3 separate regions of the Homo sapiens genome follow, and regions 2 and 3 are each reported to be linked to region 1. Evidence: microRNA targets listed by miRTarBase, many of them from high-throughput screens and not tested one by one. Region 1 holds a microRNA gene; each other region holds the end of a gene's coding sequence.

The links. Region 1 holds the annotated microRNA hsa-miR-4329 (CCUGAGACCCUAGUUCCAC, at 1,798-1,816, opposite strand). A microRNA usually pairs through its seed, bases 2 to 8, with sites in the 3' UTR of a target mRNA and lowers its output. Matches are read on the target gene's strand: a 7mer-m8 pairs with bases 2 to 8, a 7mer-A1 pairs with bases 2 to 7 and ends in A, and an 8mer does both.
Region 2: the mRNA of CLIP4 is a reported target of hsa-miR-4329. Seed matches in the 3' UTR shown: 7mer-A1 at 1,033-1,039.
Region 3: miRTarBase lists NDUFA9 as a target of hsa-miR-4329. Seed matches in the 3' UTR shown: 7mer-m8 at 2,140-2,146, 8mer at 2,030-2,037 and 7mer-m8 at 1,815-1,821.

Annotation. Positions count from the first base shown.
Region 1 is chrX:112,778,931-112,783,667 of GRCh38, forward strand. MIR4329 (microRNA 4329) reads right to left here and starts at 1,858; the gene lies at 1,788-1,858. AMOT (angiomotin) reads right to left here. Exons shown (of 14, transcript NM_001113490.2): 11 at 3,610-3,732; 12 at 1,956-2,188; 13 at 67-750. RefSeq lists an enhancer at 463-963.
Region 2 is chr2:29,181,596-29,185,595 of GRCh38, forward strand. CLIP4 (CAP-Gly domain containing linker protein family member 4) reads left to right here. Exons shown (of 16, transcript NM_024692.6): 16 at 1-2,213. The coding sequence ends at 298. Among named protein-coding and RNA genes, the nearest start is that of CLIP4, 68 kb to the left of the region's middle.
Region 3 is chr12:4,686,511-4,690,510 of GRCh38, reverse strand. NDUFA9 (NADH:ubiquinone oxidoreductase subunit A9) reads right to left here. Exons shown (of 11, transcript NM_005002.5): 11 at 1-3,573. The coding sequence ends at 3,403. Among named protein-coding and RNA genes, the nearest start is that of GAU1, 32 kb to the left of the region's middle.

The DNA of each region.
Region 1 (4,737 bases):
CAAGAAATAAATCTGTATTTGAGAGCAGAACTAAACCAAAACCTACCTGCTAAAGGGAATAATTACCTGTTTTGTCTGGATTGCAGGTCAAACTTGGTATAGACAAACGATGTGGTCCAGGACCGGTAGCTGGACTTGCAGGAACCTCAGCCTGAGCCACAGCTGGAGTTGGAGTTGGAGCTGGAGTTGGAGCCACAGCCGGAGCTGAAGTTGGTGCCTGAGTCTGAGCAGGAGCAGAAGCCTGAGCCGCTGCTGGAGCTGGAACCGGAACCAGAGCCGGAGCTGGAACTGGAGCCGGAGCAGCTGGAGCAACCTGAACAGCAGCAGCAGCAGCAGCAGAAGGAGCAACGGCAGCAGCTGAGGCAACAGAGGCAGCAGCTGGAATCTGACCAGCAGCAGCTGGAGAAACAGCAGCAGCAGTAGCAGCGGCAGTGGCTGGAGACGGGGCAGCAGCAGCAGCTGGAGCAGCAGCAGCAGCAACAGCAACTGGAGCAGCAGCTACCATGGTGGTGGTGATGGTGGCAGCAGTGGCAGTGATGGCGGCAGCAGTGGCGGCAGCAGCAACTGGAGCAGGAACAGAGATGGGAGCAACAGCTGCAGTTTTGTTCGATTCCGTCCCACGTTCAGTTTGGGTACTGCAGTCTCGGCTGCCTGTCTTGGAGTGAGCCGAGAGCAGGGGAGTCGAGGGTGGCACAGGCGAGGGTGTGGAAGGGACATATTCAGCACGGTAGTCTCCACCCAGGAGAATGCCTACAAATGAAAGAGGAACAGATGTTAGAAAACAATAGGTGATTCAAATCCAGACATCTAATTACCTGTTCTCCCATTCAAATTTCAGAAGAAATTTATTTATTTTTAAATAAGTAAATATTATTTAAATATTTAAAATATTATTATTTTTAAATATTAAATAATTTAGAATAGTCTAAGTTATTTATTTTTGCCTCCAGGGAACCCAGAAATCAGTGTGTGAGGCTCCTCCAACCATGGCTAAAAGTTTCCTACAGACTTCGAGGATCCCTTCTGGTCCTCATCCATCACCTGGCACAACATATTAAGCCTGTAAGTGACCTGGGTATCTGTTTTGATTTATTTTTCCAATGGTGATTGGGTTCCACCAAGTTGTCAGAATGCTCCTACTCGGCTCCACTTATAAACCATTACCACACGTTACCAGGGAGCAAGAAAGGATCTGGGGAAGAAGTCTGTTGACACAGATTGAGTGTGGTAATAATTGTGTGATCTGAGGTTCTCACCATGACCATAGTCCCCAAAATGCTTATTCTAACCAAAAGATATTACAAGTATCAGAGGACCAAGAAAGGAATTAACAGCAACAAAAAGGGTTAAAATAAAAATATATATAAGCTTCCTTCCTCGGGCTCTAAAAATGTGCCTCGTGGTATCCACAATATGTCTGGGGTTTTGATTAGAGGGGAGGGAATGGACAGGAACGGAATGAAAAAGTACATTCTGTTCTCATCTCACAACACTGTGGGAACAAAACCTGCTACCCAAACGATTTAGTGTAACTAAAACTCTGGGTTCTCCTATTATAGAGGAGGAAGGAACACAGAAATGCCGGAATTTTGACATTTGGAACGACACAAAGGCCACATGGGCTTTGGAGAAAGATAAAGGTGCCACATGGCAAAGGCCAAATCTGAGAATAGTTTAGAGGAAATTAGAGTTATCTTCCTTGACACCCAAATGAAACTCAAGATTCTTGTCCTCTAAGCCTTGGCCTCAATCGGTATTCTCACCGGGAGACTTCAAAGTGTGGAGGAGCTCCAGAATGTGGAACTAGGGTCTCAGGAGGAAAAAAAAACTCCAAAACCCTGGTACACCTTCCTCTCTAGAACCTGGACCATCATCCCTTTTCCTTAAGCATGGGTGCTTATCTCAGGGCTCTCTTTGAACACGTGACTATAATCTTCCTTATTTACTGTCATTACCTAGGCTCCCCTTCCAGCTCTTGTCGTCTCGCTTTTCTTCCATGATGGGGGAGCCAGTCAGGGTGGATGAGTGGGAGAGCAAGCCTGATCCAGCATTGGAAATGGACATCAGAGACTTCGCTGGCCGCATGCACGACAGCTGCTCTGTCTTGCTCGGCTCCTTCCGGGAACGCTGCTGGAGTACTTTGATCATGGCATCCTTCTCAATAATCTGGGCATGGAGGGTCTTAATCCTAGGAGCCAAAGGCAAAGAACATATAAAGACCTTGTTGTGGGCTGGGCGCGGTGGCTTACGCCTGTAATCCCAGCATTTTGGGAGGCCGAGGTGGGCGGATTGCAAAGTCAGGAGTTCGAGACCAGCCTGGCCAACATGGTGAAACCCTGTCTCTACTAAAAACACAAAAATTAGCTGGGTGTGGTGGCAGGCGCCTATAGTCCCAGCTACTCGGGAGGCCGAGGCAGGAGAATCACTTTAACTTGGGAGGCGGAGGTTGCAGTGAGCCAAGATAGTGCCACTGCACTCCAGCCTGGGTGACAGAGCAAGACTGACTCCATCTCAAAAAAAAAAAAAAAAAAAAAAAAACCTTCTTGCTACCTCCACATTTTGGTCTAATTGACTACATGACTACGTGGAGCTCCCATTATCTTTTCGACTAAAGGCTGATCTAGTTAGTTCTGAGTTGGAAAACAAGGGATGGTGTGCTACAGTTTTTAAAACATGTTTTTTCTTTTTTCTGCACACCCAAATGGATACAGCAGAGCATCCAGGAGCTGTTGCTTAAATCTTAGTAAGTCACAATAAAGTACCAGTGAAAAAAAAGGCTGAATATGAGAGAATGAACTGATGTACTAGGTGCTGTAGTGAAGAATCTCAGTCAATGGAAACAATTTACTCAGTGAGAAGATGAGATCTATGAATGAGCGACAACCTGCAGGTAGTAAGTAAATGATCATGTGTTTATAAAAGGAATCAGGTATCCTACCTCCACTTTGAGTAGATGTTCTTTTTGTTGTTGTTGTTGAGACGGACTCTAGCTCTGTCGCTCAGGCTGGAGTGCAATGGCATGATCTTGACTCATTGCAACCTCTGCCTCCCAAGCTCAAGCAATTCTCCTGCCTCGGCCTCCTGAGTAGCTGGGACTACAGGTGCCCGCCACCACACCTGGCTAATTTTTGTATTTTTAGTAGAGACAGGGTTTCACCATATTGGCCAGGCTGGTCTTGAACTCCTGACCTCAGGTGATCCGCCCGCCTTGGCCTTCCAAAGTGCTGGGATTACAGGTGTGAGCCATTGTGCCCGGCCGAGCAGATGTTCTTTTACTCTTTTATTAAGCAATCTGCTGTATCACAGGGTTGTGGTGCAGTGCTAGAAAGAATACTCCAGAGTGCAAATGCCAACAATTCAGCTCAGGCAGAGGGAAGAGGAAAAGCAATTAGGAAGGCCAAAGGGACAGAAACCCTACCTGGAATTCCATGTTTAGTGGAGATTATCAAGGTAAAGGTCATTGCATCTCACACCTTTAAGTGACAGGCTGGCAGGGGTGATGGTGGAGCGGGGAGGCTGCATGATCAGATTTCCTAGCTGTGAATAAAGATCCTATGTGGTCTCTATATCAATGTCTCAGATTCCTCAGGGTCCAGAACAACATTTTACCTGCCCTCCATGTCAAGGCAACGCTTATTGGCCATCAAGATTTCTTCCTCCTCTTTCTGGATGCGAGCTTCTAGAGCTGTGTCATAGCTGGTGTTAGGAGAGTGACTGATGACTGTTGTGTCCCTGGGGAGGAAAATGGAAGTGATGAGATGGGAGCATAGCAAGATCAATGAATGTTATCTTTCTTCTAAGTCAAGGAAGGCTTTTCTGGAAAGTCCTAAGCTGAAATCAAGCACATTTGGAACAGATGGTTTCTGGGGAACTAACCCGTAAGAGCCTCCAAAATAGGACAGTTCAGCGTTCAGGGTAGAAGGCAACGTTATTAGTATAGAAGTGGCTGCAAAAGTCAGTGAGGGATGAGATATGCACAGACTTGCCTTCAGAACTGAACAGATATCATCCCAAAACCTTCTGGCAGATAGCCCCTTCAAGTTTTTAGATCATGGCCAAGCAACAGGAATATGTATATATTGGGCCAGGCATGGTGGCTCATGCCTGTAATCCTAACGCTTTGGAAGGCTGAGGCAGGTGGATCATCTGAGGTCAGGAGTTTGAGACCAGCCTGGCCAACATGGAGAAACCCTGTCTCTACTAAAAATACAAAAATTAGCCAGGCATGGTGGTGCACGCCTGTAATCCCCGCTATCTGGGAGGTTGAGGCAGGAGAATCACTTGAACCCGGGAGGTGAAGGTTGTTGTGAGGTGAGATCGAGCCACTACACTCCAGCCTAGGCAACAGAGGGAGACTCTGTCTCAAAAAAAAAAAAAAAAGGAATATGTATATATTTCCATTTTATTCTCCTAGAAGTCATAGAGGGGGAAAGGTCAGACTTTCAAGAAAGTCAGAGGGTATACTAAGTAACTTATGGCTACAGATGAACATTGGTAAATACACCTGAGTACTAGAAGCAAACAACAGACACATCAGCTAAGATTAGGTAGGGCATGTGAGCTAATAAATAGTGCCTTTGAGTCAGTCCCACTCGATTCCTATCTAATCTACATCTGAAACATTCTAGCACCAAATCAATGGGTCTACCCCAACAAAGTGACTGTTCTCTTGCCAGAGTTCTAACTGCATAAAGGACCATCATGTTCCATTTGAAAGTGTCTCAGGCCATTAACTCA
Region 2 (4,000 bases), not on the chromosome of region 1:
TTGGAGCAGCACCCCCACCGCAGGTGGCATTGAAGGGAGCGTGAAGCTGCACGAGGGGTCTCAGGTCCTGCTCACGAGCTCCAATGAGATGGGTACTGTTAGGTATGTGGGCCCCACTGACTTTGCTTCAGGTATCTGGCTTGGACTTGAGCTCCGAAGCGCCAAGGGAAAAAATGATGGGTCAGTGGGTGACAAGCGCTATTTCACCTGTAAGCCGAACCATGGAGTCTTAGTTCGACCGAGCAGAGTGACCTATCGGGGAATTAATGGGTCAAAACTTGTGGATGAGAATTGTTAAGCTTCTAAAATATTAAATAAGCTCAAATATATATATTTGGTGTAAATAAAGAGTCCATGGTAAATGGTTTACTTTATTTAGCCATATTAAAATTTTGAAAATATAGTTATCTTCTTAAAAACCATTATAACAATTCAGAGAGAGTTCTTTACAAAGCCATGAATATGAACTATGGGGAATCATGGTTCTTTTAAAGCAATTTTCAAAATAAGTACCAATTAAAGCTTTAGGTTCCAAGAAGATTCTGGGACTCAGGAAGAAAAAGTGCCATCAGGTGACCAGCTGTTGCATTTCTTGCTTATTCTGTTTTGTTTTTGCACATCATAATGGATTTTTCTTAGTGCCCTAATTGTGAAGGGTTTCTCTAGCTTTGGTTATGTGTAATGTTCACGTGACCTTTTTTTGTCAATCATTTTTGGAATTTTTCTTTCTTTCTGTGCTTTATTACTAATAAGTCCAATGAGTGAGTAGTAGCTAGATGACTAGTATGTAGTTTTATATTTTGGTAAAATTATTTGCCCTTTCAGAAATGCCTCATCTAAAGATACATGATAATTTTGGAGTTGGAAGGGGCCTTAGAGGCTCTCCAGCTCTGCTTCTTGCCCATTGCCAAATACTGAAATGGAAGCCCGTCTTACCTGGGGTCACTAACTGGTTGGTTAACTGAGCTAAGAATAGACTGTGGGTCTCCTCACTTGTGGCCCAGTGCTCTTTCTGCTATACAAAATGTCTAATCTCAGATTTTTCTTCTGCTGCTTGACTGCTTCATCTGGATGAACTACAAAAAACCCATGATTAAGGTTTATGAATTCAAGTAATAATTAGATTTTTTTTGCACAGACTTACTTAACTTCCTTATTGGATATGTTTGTAACACATAAACACAAAGCACTTTTCAAACATGATGCACTTTTATCTTTGTGAATAATTTACTGTCCTTTCCTCCTGGGATATGAGAAACATTTTAAAAAACGTATTTAACAGAAGAGAGCAAATAAAGATATATCAGGAAGGATGTATTAGTTATTTACTTAAATGTTTATAATATCTGGATTTTTTTTGTTTTGTTACTCATAGAACTGGTGTTGTTTGCTGTTTTTATTTCTCTAATTGTTGCAGAGTTCTGCCTGTTACAAAGCTACAGAACTGTATTGTTTTTATTTTCCTTCTTGAGCACATGTTAACAAACTAAGCTTCACATTAGAGTGATGTCATAATGTAAAATGTTTGCATTGTGGTTAGGTATTGAAGTTTATGTCCTGTCTGTGTAAAGATTCATCTTTTATTGTAAATATTTAGACTTTACCACAGAAATATTGGAACAGTTTGCTTTATAAGATTAAAAAGCATCCTTCAGAATGGAGCTTGCCTTGTGCTTAGAAATAATATGTTGAACTATTTTGCAATATACTATTTTAAATCTAAATTCTGTCACTTCGCTGCCTTTTTAAAATAGTGTGGTATTTCAAATATTGCTAGAGCTATTTTCCTGAAATACATTTGCAAAATAAGGCTGCTTTGTAATCAAGGAATATTTTTATTGATTGAAGGAAATGACTGTACTGCGATTCAAAAGTAAACTTATTTTATTATACAGATTATTTCTTAAAAACTCTATTTATACCTTAACATGAAATCCATGACCACACCAAACTTGGTTATTCATAATTTTTCCTGTTAAATATAAAACACTGTAAGTTAAAAACAGTAATGCCAACATTGAATTTATTTTTGAGGTCAAAGAACCAGTTGTTCTCTTTATATTTAGATGAGGATGATTGAGTCCATATACTATGTATGTTTACATATACTATACATGCACATTAGGTGTTTTCATTTGTGTTTTGCTTATGAAATGTCATTTAAAGTTCACTTCTTGAGCATCAATAAAAAGGGAAGCTGTGTGGTTTTGGAATGGTATCTTGTCATTTACCCTATTTGCAACTCTGCTTTTCTCAGTAACTCAGGGTGCATATGCTTTGAACTTTTTCCTCACGGTAATGGCTTGGATTTGTCCTGTCCCTATAAAGAGTATTAAAAAGTATCATGCTTTCTACTCAACAGTCTATGTTCATAGCCACCATCCTATTAGTATTGTTTTGATGAATAGTGAGTCATTTAAGAAAAGAACGTATTTCTACAGTTGGGATTTCACTTGTTTATTTAGGGTAGGATGGAACACTTTGAATTTAGATTAAAAAATAGAAATAATTAGCTGCCTTTTACTAAAAAACTTTGTTTTTATATTTAGGGTGATTTGGGGGGAATATTTTTAAGTATGTAAGAATGTTGAGTACTGCTGTTTGCTAACTGTGAACTCTGGTGTTGTAATCTTGTTGTGAGTCTCTGGCACCTCCTCCCAAGAGCTCCTTGTTTCCCTCTCATGTTTTATTTTTCTCTTTAGCATTTGGTCATGCTTATTACTGATTACAACTTCTTGCTTATTATTTCTTTCTTCCTTCACGAGATTGAGGAGTGGATTTTTGACTGTTTTGTTCACCACTTTATCCCCAACACCTAGAATAATACTTGGTACCTAGTAGATGCTCGGTTTTGTTGAGTGAACAAAGGCAGTAAAGGCCATTGATTGTTGGAAATAGAGATAGTATCTAGCTAGCTTCACACAAGGGGCCTTGCAAGACTAGGCCACAGAACAGGTAAATTTTCTTAGACACGAAAGGAGGAAGGAGGACAAGAAAAGTTTGAATCCAGGAGCCCAACTTACCCCTGAAGAGTGCCGTGTAAGAGACAACAGATGCTGAGTGGCGCAGCAGTAGGGAATGGGGAGGAAAGACGCAGCAGGACCACCTGGGGCAGCTCCCTTTCCCTTCTGCCTGGGGCTAACTTTGAATTCCTATTTTAATATGATGATAATTTAGAGAATATGGTAATACATGTGGTCTAATATGGAGAGAATGAACTGGATCATACTCAAGTGGGGATAACGTTGATCTCCAGTATTAAATATATATCTCTATCTATCTATATATATATTTTTTGAGGCAGGGCCTCGCTCTGTCACCCAGGCTGTAATGCAGTGGCGGGATCTCGGCTTACTGCAACCTCCGCCTCCTGGGTTCAAGTGATTCTCCTGCCTCAGCCTCCCGAGTAGCTGGGATTACAGGCACCCACCACCATGCCCAGCTAATTTTTTGTATTTTTAGTAGAGATGAAGTTTCACCATGTTGGCCAGGCTAGTCACGAACTCCAGACCTCAGGTGATCCACCTGCCTTGGCCTCCCAAAGTGCTGAGATTACAGGTGTGATCCACCGTGCCTGGCTGTGTTAGATATTTTTATTTCAGAGTTTTATTTTGAGGCTCCCTTTTTAGAATGTGTGATAATATTATTTAAACCACATCAACCAATGGCTAGAAGCCTATTGTGTTAAAATCATTCTTAATTGAGAAATAGTTCTAGTAATTTTAACTACTTACCAGATGGATATTTGTTATCTAAGTAACAAATGACTAAATGACTCAGAGACATATAATATTCATAGCCACATTGCAAGCCAATAGAAGGATTAATTTATTTTTTTCATGCCCTTTCCTTCACTTATTTATAATACAAATACAGTGGTTAATACAAAACTCACGTTATCGTGTATATTTTTAGTAATTGTTTAGTATCCCTTGGTACACAGGCCTTATTTACAAACAATGTCACATATACTGTTTGATTATAAAATAAACATTCCTAA
Region 3 (4,000 bases), not on the chromosome of region 1:
GGCTGGTCTTGAACTCCTAACCTCATGATCCACCCCCATCAGCCTCCCAAAGTGCTGGGATTACAGGCAAGAGCCACCGCGCCCAGCCCATAGAACTTATTTTTGTCATTAGGATGAAGAATGTGAGATGATCTTAAGGCCTAGCAAAGCTGTGGGAAATACACAGGAGGGCCAAGGAAGAACATGAACGGAATTTAAAGTAGAATCAGAAGGTAAACAGATTTGCTGAATCACAAAGGTTTAATGATAAATGTAGGTAAATGAGGAAGAAAACATGATAATGGGATGGGTTTACAGTCTTGCAGGCTCAAATCAACTGTGAGAATCAGGTAATGTGCAACCTGAATCCCTAGAAAGGTGTGGCTTGAAGTCTCTATGGGGACAGCCCCTATAAATGGAGACTCAGCCCATGCCTCCTTATGAAGAGAATCACCCTGGATATGAGTGTCCTAGATCTTATGCCCAGCTCCCAGTTACTTGTCATATGCAACCTCCATACACTGAGAGGGTGACATCCACTAGCTTAGGATGGTAAAATTGTTTCCTTAGTCAATGCTACGGCTTCAGTGTTTGTGTGGGGGGCGCCTCCGCCCAGCCAGCCGACCAGTCCGGGAGGTGGGGGGCGCTTCTGCCCGGCCGCCCCTACTGGGAAGTGAGGAGCCCCTCTGCCCGGCCACCACCACGTCTGGGAGGTGTACCCAACAGCTCATTGAGAACGGGCCATGATGACGATGGTGGTTTTGCGGAATAGAAAAGGGGGAAATGTGGGGAAAAGATAGAGAAATCACATTGTTGCTGTGTCTGTGTAGAAAGAAGTAGACATGGGAGACTTCACTTTGTTCTGTACTAAGAAAAATTCTTCTGCCTTGGGATGCTGTTGATCTATGATCTTACCCCCAACCCTGTGCTCTCTGAAACATGTGCTGTGTCCACTCAGGGTTAAATGGATTAAGGGCGGTGCAAGATGTACTTTGTTAAACAGATGCTTGAAGGCAGCATGCTCGTTAAGAGTCATCACCACTCCCTAATCTCAAGTACCCAGGGACACAAACACTGCGGAAGGCCGCAGGGTCCTCTGCCTAGGAAAACCAGAGACCTTTGTTCACTTGTTTATCTGCTGACCTTCCCTCCACTATTGTCCTATGACCCTGCCAAATCCCCCTCTGCGAGAAACACCCAAGAATGATCAATAAAAATAAAAAAATAAAAAATAAAAAATAAAAGAAATATACAGCATCCTGAGATGATACAAGTTAGAGATGAGAAATAGCATTGCTAGAAAATGAAGATAATTACAGTTAAGACAGAAGAAGTAAGACCTGGTGTTCAATAGATCAGTAGGGTAACTAGAGTTAATACTAATCTACTGTACATTTCAAAATAGCTAGAAGAGAGTAATTTGAATGTTACTAGCATAAAGGTAAATGTTTAAGGTGATGGATATCCCAATTACACTGATTGATTATATGAATATATCAAATTACCACATATACCCTGACAATATTTACATCTATTATGTATCAATAAGTTTTTTTTTAAGAATCAAAAAAAGGAAAGAAAGTGTAGATATTCTAAGAGAGGACACTGTGCATTATAGAATTATAGTTCCTTTTCAAATTAAATCCACCCATCTCTGTGCCTAATGGCTGGCTTATGGCCAGGAGGGGTGTCATCCAAAATAACAGACAGCATCTGAAGAAAAAACGTGAAGTTGGGTTTGTGTTCCTTTCCCTAGTACGCTGATTCTGACATACTAGTGTACAGGAGAATAAACTAGAATGTTTAATAAAACTAAAATTCCTGGGCCCTCCTTCCTGAGACTCTGATTCAGTAGGTCTGGGGTGGGGTCAGCAACCTGGATTAATAACAGGGATCACACTGAACTCTGATACAGCTCTTCTGTATGGCAGTGCTTCTCATACTGTAATGTGCATACAAATCTCCTGGAGACCTTGCTAAAATGCAGATTCTGATTCAACACGCCTGGGACAGGACAAAACCTAGGATTCTGCCTTTTTTTTTTTTTTTTTCTGAGACAGGATCTTCAGTCCAAGCTGAAGTGCAGTGGCACTATCATAGCTCACTGTAACCTTGAACTCCCAGGCTCAAGCAATCATCATACCTTAGCCTCCCGAATAACTGAGACTACAGGTGCGTGCCACCATGCCCTACTAACTTTTTGAAATTTTTCTGTAGAGACAAGGTCTTGCCATATTGCCTAGGCTGGTCTCAAACTCCTGGCCTCAAGCGACCGTCCCACCACAGCAACTCAAAAGCGTTGGGATTACAGGTGTGAGCCACTGTGCCCAGCCCGGGTTCTGCATTTCTAACAAGCCCCAAGATGATCCCAATGCTGGTGATCTATGGACCACACTTGGAGTAGCTCACTGTTGACCGTTTTGGGATAAAAAGATTCTGATGCAGGCAGAAAGGGCAGGTGGAGAACTTACCTTCAACACTGATATACCTTTCTCTCTGTAAGGAGACGGGCATTCCCTCATCAAACAGCGTTTTTACTGACATCCCTGTCCCAAATATAGATCAGGAGGCTGAAGTCCAGTGAAACACAATGACCAACCCTGGGTCACCTAGGATGGTGGTATGTTGGCTTCACCACAAATTGTGGGAGTTTTAAATCACACTGTACTGGTGGGATTTGCCAACACTAAACCAAATGTTCATCTGGGTCTTGGCTGCAATTTTAAGAACTTCATTAGAAGGTCATAATTCCTAAGTGCTGGCACTGCTGGCATAGAAGCTGAAGCATCTCCTTTGCATGTGAAGAGAATCTATCTCCACCTATGTGTCTGAAATAATCCAGATGTGGTACTAAGGGCATCGGGCTGGCCTCAGATAGCTCAGATCCAAGAAGACTGTGGAATTACTGCAAGGGGTTTGAGAATCTATGGACAATGTTTTTCTATATATGTACTACTATTTTTAAAAGGCATATGGACATTATTAAAATAAATTTTAAAAACACCTTCAGTGTAAACACATTCAGGTTAGGGGATACTGTATGCTCTCTCATTTAATGGAAATTAAAAAACAATCACATATCACTTGGGGTCTTTACAATACTTTGACATTAAAAAGGGTCCTTGTCTTCTAGAACGTATGCTAGAAGTGGTTTGTCATAGGAAAATTCAAACTCTCTGGCATTTCAGAGAATAAATAGTATATATATCATTATTAAATATGTTTAACAAAAATCATGCTCAAGTTCTAAGTGACTACATTTCTCATTTTGTAAATCAAGGAAGAAAATACTGCAGAATTCAACCTGAAATGTTTTAATAGTGGAACTGTGTACAGGATCCTCTAAAGAGACCGCCTGGCTGGGTGCTCAAACCACATGGGCCGACCCAAAAGACGCCAAAACCAAGAGCTGCTCAGGAGGCACTAAATGTTGACGGTCTTGGCCGGCTTCACATCCTCAATTTCAGCAGACAGCCAGCGGTAAGTGCGATGACGCCGCAGCACCTCAATGGCCTTGAGTTCCAGTGGTGTTGCCTGAATACCAAGGTCTTCTAAGCCAGGCAGGTGAGGCAATTTCATGTCTGTGATGTGCATCTTTGGATAAACAAAGGACCACAGACAATGCTGAAAACTGGCTGAGAACAAAGTGCTATCCTAGCAGGCACTTAAACATTCAAGCTGGCATGAGTCCTATTATTGAGACTTAATTGCTTTCAAAGAATATGTGGCAATTTTCGATTCATGCAAATCACTATAAAAGCAGAACACACAAAGAGGGCTTAAGACAAAAGAGGGCGAGATCACCAAGTATCAGATCGAGGTCCCCAGTGGCAGCCGCGAGCACAGGATGTTGGCACTACATGAGCCATTCTATATACAGATTTCAACAGAAATAAATCTAGGGCAGGGAAGCACAAGTCACCACACTTGCCAGGGGAGGCTGAACAGGAGGGTTTAGGAATAAAATCAGGGCTTAAGCAGAGCTGGTCCATTCCTCAGTCCTCTCACGCCCCTGTTTTCT